Linked DNA regions of Homo sapiens. The protein of the gene in region 1 purifies or fractionates together with the protein of each later gene. This does not show direct contact. Each region holds a gene or a part of one and is shown on either strand. Other genes may lie near its edges. The genes, in order: PPP1R3F and ITM2B.

What was found.
Region 2: the proteins of PPP1R3F (region 1) and ITM2B purify together in Homo sapiens (co-immunoprecipitation; one large-scale study listed by IntAct). This does not show direct contact.

The regions. Positions count from the first base shown.
Region 1 is NC_000023.11:49,276,156-49,279,975, reverse strand, and holds part of PPP1R3F (protein phosphatase 1 regulatory subunit 3F), read right to left. Parts: exon of another isoform or gene 2,582-3,820; coding exon of another isoform or gene 2,448-2,581; intron 1-2,447.
Region 2 is NC_000013.11:48,264,017-48,267,662, forward strand, and holds part of ITM2B (integral membrane protein 2B), read left to right. Parts: 3' UTR 1-3,646. UniProt on the Homo sapiens protein: Plays a regulatory role in the processing of the amyloid-beta A4 precursor protein (APP) and acts as an inhibitor of the amyloid-beta peptide aggregation and fibrils deposition. Plays a role in the induction of neurite outgrowth.

The DNA.
Region 1 (3,820 bases):
TCAACTGTAGATATTTATGGGTCTTGCTCCTCCTTCACCAGGCCAGTCAGATCCCTGAGTGGCATAAGCCGAGTGCATTTCAGGTGGGTCCTCCCAGGGGTGGCATCTCATCATGGAGAAGTCACTGTTCTTATTCTGAAAATGAGTATCAAGTGTCTACAGATTAAGGTAAATGAGGGAAGCATTGACTAAAACCTGAGAGGAGCTGGGGCGAATGCCCACACCTTTTTCTTCCTAAGAGGCAATGTGACATTCTTGATACTTCTGACAATGGTTGAAAAATTTTTTTTTTTGAGATGGAGTCTCGTTCTGTCGCCAGGCTGGAGTGCAATAGCATGATCTCGGCTCACTGCAACCTCTGCCTCCCAGGTTCAAGTGATTCTCCTGCCTCAGCCTCTCAAGTATCAGGGATTACAGGTACCCACCATCACAGCCAGCTAATTTTTGTATTTTTAATAGAGACGGGGTTTCGCCATGTTGGCCAGGCTGGTCTCAAACTCCTGACCTCAGGTGATCCACCCTCCTCGGCCTCCCAATGTGCTGGGGTTACAGGCATGAGCCACCGTGCCCGGCCTGGTTGAAACTTTTTGAAAACCCATAACCAATTACCTTCACAGAAACGAGTATCACCATCTGACCCATACATAGTACCTACTATGGCATTACACACTGTTCTAAGTGCTTCACATTTTTTTAAAGAAGTTTTTGGGGTTTTTTGGTTTTTGTTTTTGTTTTTTTGTATTTTGTTTTTAGAGATGGGGTCTTCCTACGTTGACCAGGCTGGTCGTGAACTCCTGGACTCAAGCGATCCTCCCATCTCAGCCTCCCGAAGTCCTAGTACTACAGGCATGAGCCACGGTGCCTGGGCAACATGTGTTAATTCAATCCTCACAATCACCCTATGAGACAGGTACTTGTAATCCTCTGAAGCAGGCAGTACTATTGTCTCCATTTTACAGAGGATAAAACAGAGGCTGAGTAAATGGCTCAAGGTCATACACTTCACATCACAACCCAGGCCTTTTGGCTCTTACCCAGTCAGCTGCTGCTTCTTGGATGAGGGAGACTGGGGTCTTACCCAACCCATCTCCATCCTTTCTAGAAGTAGATAGAGGGAGGCATCAATACTAGACAAGATCCCTCCCTCCTCCTTCATGCAGGCTTTTCTTTGGACCTGCCTTTGCCCACATATTCATTCCCCATTTCCCTACCTCCATGGGCCTGGGACATGCGTGGCTAGGAGGCCACTAGACACAGAATGGCTGCAAGAACTGCTTTCTATAAACACCCTCGGGGAGAACATTTGAACCATATATACGGATCTAGAGTCTAGAAGGGACCGTCTGTCTTTCTCTACTGTCTAGGACTCACAAATCCCACCAGAGGTACTTGAATCAGAATACTACAGGGCCTAGGGTGGGTGACTCTGGGAGCCCAGCTGCCACCTCCCACACATCACAGATGAGAAAGAGAGATTCAGAGCAAACCAGCTTGGTCTCACACCAATCCCCTCCGTGGTCCTAAAATCCAGGTCTTTGGACTTTTGTTTCAACACAATTTCTGCCAGGCTGCACTAACTTACTTCTTTTTGTTACCATAGTCCTTCATGACAGAAAACATCCTCCTCCTAGGATCTTCTAAACCAAGCCTCTTCAAGAAGGCCCACAGACAGACAGAAAGCCAGCCCTCCCACCTGTGCGCAGTAGCAGGCAAGCCTTCTCCTCCATCTGGCCTAGTCCGGACATATATTACAAACAGGCTTCTAAAAGCCACTGCAGTCATAGATGTGAGACAGAAAAAGGAGAACACTCAGGAATCAGCTAGCCAGCAGGTAAAGGACTCCACAATTCAGTTGGAGGAAGGAGAAAGAAAAACAAATACACAATCAATCCTTCAGCCCCCAGAGCACCCTTTCCATGGCTGAGGAGGGCGAGAACATCCAAAAAGCAGGTCACGCCATTGAGCCAATCCCAAGATCCACAACATCGACAGAAGCAAACAAGTCGTTCTCCAAAGTCAGATATGAAAGCAGAAAGCACAAGCATGTATTGTTCACCTCCTCCACCATGGGCCCCTCTCATTGACACACCAAGGCATTTGAAAACCTTCACATCTATCCTTCAAAACAACACCCTTCCTTTTTACAAATGCAAAAACTAAAACTCAAGGAACTGCATCTCTACACTCACTGACTACACAACCACGCTGGTAACAAACACTCCAGGAGGGCTCCACTTTGAAGAGAGTTTGAAATTGTGGGCTTAAAAAGAAACAAGTTATCTTTGAACCGTCTTTCACAGTAAAAACTCAAGGGCAGCTATGACTTCAATCAACATGAGGATAGTAAGAGAAATCAAGTACAAATGTATACTGACTCACTGATCGGTAACAGAGAAGAGGGGTTCTTAGAAAAATGGGGAGGGAGAAGATTAAGAACAAAACTGTACCTGCAGTATGCCTGCTCGTTTTCAAGAAGGAAACCTGTTCTTTTGGCACCAGCCCCACAAGTACCACGTGGCATCCCCTCAAGGGCAGTGAGCCATAGGGGCCAGGGCACACAGATCTGGAAAATCTTGGACATGCATCATTTGGGTGCTAGTGAGCACTAGTCAAGCTGGTGTCGACTAAAAGGGGCCATCTCAGGCCTGCACGCCAGTCTCCTGGGCGTGCAAATTCCTCCGGCCATCAGGAAACACAATGGCTGCCAAGCTGATAGGCCCCGAGGAGACCAGAGGGTGAGGATTTGGAAAGAGGTGGTGTTGGCCCCGGCCTAGGCCAGCCAAGAAAGCCAAGAAAGGTGATTCGCCAGTCACAGAGTAAGCGAGCGGGTGAGGGCTGACAAGCCCTGTGGAGAAAAGCAAAGCAGACTTTCAGAGCAGTCACAGACTGCCATTGCCACCACCACCCGAGTCCTCTGGAGCACCCCCAGCATTCATGTTTTCAAAGAATTTTGCCAGCCCAAAGTGGGTCAGGCACTGAAACCCAAAGGGAAACTCAGCAGACCCCGGCTCCCATGTAGTCAACCTGAAGATAACGCTGACTTTCCGGGGGGATGAGTGGCTTCAGAAACCTGCCCCACGATACTCAGAATTGCAGTTACCCTGAGCCATCTGCTTTCTGAAAAGAACAGGGTTTGAAGGTGGCTGTGAAAGCCACCAAGTTATGTGGGGCACTGCTTTGCCTTCCCCAACAAGTGTGTCAGCCTCAACTCTGGGACTTGCGGGTGATCCAGTGGGGTAGAGGGAGAGCAGTTTCTCGTGCCATGAGCTTCTTCAACAGCCATGACTTCATTCTTTGGCCACGACCCATAGTAAGAAATCCATTCTACATCATAACCCAGCACACCCACACGTGTAAACAGACATATAAATAACTGAAAAATGGTTGTTCTTCGAGTGAAACAATACTTACCTTTACTGCATGTGGTGATACACTGGCATTTCTTATGCTATTTCCTTTTTCTTTTTAATGCTTGTTGAAACCCAGTAAATTGATTTCACAACTCAATAAAGGGTTAGGATATGCAATTTTGAACAATTCCAGCTCTGCCACCTATCAGCTGTGTGACCTGGGGCAAGTTACTTAACCTCTCTGTGCCTCAGTTACCTCATCTCTAAGGAGGGGATAATAATACCTACATCAGTGAGTTGTTCAGCAGATCAAAGAAATATTTGAAAAGTACCTATAAAGCACTTAACAGTAACCCCCTCCAAATTTCCATTGAGGGAAACTGAAGCTCTGAAAGGAAAGCAACTTGCCCAGTGTTGCCCTGCTGGTAAAATGCATCACCCAGCCTGGTACAGTAGCTAAGAGCTGGAGC
Region 2 (3,646 bases), on another chromosome or scaffold:
CCCTATTGCATTGGTTTAAAAAAAAAGTACAGAAGTCAAGATGAGACTATATAAATCTTGACAAGTTGTTGGCCGTGATTGCTCTTTTGTGATGCAGGAGTGAGAATCTGGAGAATCTGGCTTAAGAGGTGGCTGAGAATTAAAATAATAGGCATGAAAATGCTTCATACAGCTCTGTACAGTTGTTGACAGTGCCTTTTTTGAAACCTATCACTGCTATATGTTAGCAAGCAAACACTGATCTTGTTTTGTAATGTGTAATTGTTCACTTCTGCTTTCCCTGTATCCCTTTTTAGATTCCACACCCATATTAGTGAGAAGCAAGAAAAAAAAATGTACACAGTGTCCTAAATGTTGTTTATCTCGAATAATAGAAGTAGGAGTGTAAAACTTAAAGGCTGATTAATAATGCAAATGAAAAGGCAAATGGATTATTGAATAGAAAAGGTCTAGATTCTATGTTTGAATGTGGTTATGAATTAATATGGGCAGAATCTCTAAGATTCTGCTAAGTGAACATTTAGTAGTTTACTAGACATCTTCTCTTCCACCTAGCAAAGAGTTTGTTGCCCAGAGTTATATAAATCCTACTCTATTGCACACTAATCTTTGCATGTTTAACTCTTTGGGACTTAGGTTCCTAGATAAGGACTTCATGTGTATCTATTTAGAAAAAGAACATTTCTTCATTTCCACAAAGCTACACAGCCATCAGTTCGTTCAATATCTTGTCCAAAGTTATTGCTAGCGTTCTTCTTTCTGAGTCTTTGTGGCTAATGCTTTTTTGAGGAAGAAGCATGATTTAGTCTCAGCTCTCTATTGATCATTTTAGGCTTTTATCTTACTGAAAAAATTAAGCACAATTTAAGATTTTTTTTGAAATATTTACTGAATTTTGAGGCCATAAATTATTTCCTGATAGCACACATGTATGGGTTGTAGATTCCACACTTTTAATCTTCCAGCCACCTATTGCAGATTGGTTCTGAGAAGCAGGATGAGTGGGAGTGGGCTTAGGGGTCAAAATTGAGACCTAAGTGGTATAAAACAAGATAATCCTAGCTTCCTCCCACTTAAAATAATTTGATGGGACTTCTGTATCTGATTTTTAAGCTTGCATTTGTGTTTATATTTTCATTGTAAAAATATCAAATAATACAGTTTTTGAAGGTAAAAAGTAAATGTTCCCGCCCTTCTACCATCCTCCTTCCTCAGTCCCATTCCCCAACAGTTTAACGTGCGATACAATAATGTGTGACACAAAATGACCTAGTTCTTGCCCTAGTGACTAAGCAGATGCAAACGCCTTCTTCTTTCCAAACAGTGTGGTCTTATCCCCGTCGCAAATGGAGGATATTTAAGAAACCCAAGCCAGAAACCCCACAGTCTTCACAGTCACTGTGTCCTCCACCTCCTAGCAGCTTCCTGCTGTTCTGCTCTAGTGGTTCTCTCTGCTTCCCCACACCCACCCGTAAGCCACAACAATCTTTCCAAAACACGAACTTGATGGTTTCATTGTCACACCCCAGCTTAAAACACTTTCCTGGCTTCCCCTGGTTCTTAGGATAAAGACCAAAATACTTAATGCTGCACAGTCCAGTCCCAACCCACTCTCCAGCTTCATCTTAATCACACCCCTCTTTGCTCCTAGTGTCCTACCACATTGCCTGACTTACTGTTTCTTGGTAAATGCTATTCTTACTTCCTGAAGATTATTTCCATCTCCTCACCCGACACCCTTCAGTTAGCTTCCACTCAACCTTCAGAATTTAGTTCAGGTGACCCTTCCTCAAGAGAAGATTTTCCTGAACCATTAGGAAAGGCTTCTCTTGTTTCTCAGTCTCATAGCATCATCTGTCTCTTTTTTGTGACTTGAATATAATTAATATTTTATATTTTGTCCTTGTTGCTTGTTTGGTTAATAGATTTCCACCACTAGACTGCTCAATACGTTAGTAGGGCACCTGACACATAGTTGCAGCTCTTATTTATTGAATGAATGAATGATTCCTTCCCGTACCACCCTAGTCTTGCCCACTGTCATTTTTATTCTGGGTATTATATTTCCCAACCAGTTGTCTGACTTTCTCCTCAGATCTCATCCCCATGGGTCTGAGTGAGTTGCCTTGAATATAAGATTCAGTGATGGTGTCCTGCTGCACTTAAGAGAAAATCCTTTTTTCAAGCCCTAAAATCCTGCCCTCACTAGACTTCTCTCACCATTTCTCTGTTTGCATCCTAGCCTTTTAGTTTTGGCCTCATATAAGCTTGCAGCCCTGCCTGAAACAGTTGTCTCTGTCCCCACTCTACCCCCTGCCCTCCACAAAGAAAAGTTAACTCTTACTCATCTTTCAGATCTCAGACTAAAAGTTTCCTCAGAGATGCCACCATAGCTCTCTATTTCTCATACCTTTCATGATACTTCATCACCTGTCTTCATGAAGTCCTCCTCTAGACTATTAGCAAAATGCTCATACTGTGTCCTCAGTATTTGGCACATAATAGGTTTTCTTGACACTGAAGGAAGGAATAAACATCTGGTAACTATAGCTAGAAAAAAAGGAAATACGGTATCTACTTCACTAAAACCAAAGGGGGTTTTTTTGGGCAGACAATCTTCATTATTCAGATGGAAATTAATGTTTGTTGAATGAATGAGCTACATTTCATGGATTAACTCCATGAAATGGAGTTCAGCTAGTAAGGGTTATACTTTGAGGCTATTTCATCTTGATGGGCTTGTTGTTCAAAGTTAGAGCCTCATTTTAAGTAAAATGTTCTGTGGGGGCCATATTAAGATTTTCATATGACAGAAGTGTATATATATCCACAAATGTTTCAAGCCAAGATTATGTCTTCTTCCATAATGCCACCTTCTTCTAGGATAGTATTTTTGGGCCAGATGGTTTTCCACATTTAAAACATACCAACATTCTTTTAAGGCCCAGTGATTATCAAAAGGGATTGGCACTACATTTTAAAATGTAGGGGGGATTTTTGATTGTCACAGGACTAGAGGATGCCATTTGTATTTAGTAGATGAGGCCAGGCAGGATGCTAAATGTCTTAAAAGTCCGGGAGTCCTGCACAAAAAATTACTGCCCTTCTTGATTTGCCAATTATGCCCCTGCTGGGAAGCATGAAAGGAGAGAGAAGAGCTTTCAGAATGTCAGGGATAAATATATCCATTAAGCCTTCAGACTAAGATGCAGGAATAGTTTTCCATTTGGGTATGAATACGGCAAGTTCTTAGAACATTTCTTAAAACATAATTAGCCAAATACTAGTGTAACAGCTACAACTTATCTAGTTTTAATCAACTCCAGGGAACATTACACTTTATTTAACCCCTAATTATCTGATAACCCAAGTTCTGTCAGAAACACTGCTGAGGCATCCAGGAAGATGAGCCTGTGAAATTTGAGAATCCTTCATGTCTCTGGAATGAGTCCCTAGATTCTAGCCCTGCAGCTAGCTGACACTCTAAAAAATTATGAGTGCCTTCCTTTAGCTCCCCATAGAAATGTCTTTGTATAACCATGGCATGATATTATTCTCTTGACTTTTGTTGAGGATTGATAGAAATAAAAATGAGCCAGAAATGTTTCTTCAGCTTTTGTAAAGTGCTGTTAAAAGCATTATGTCA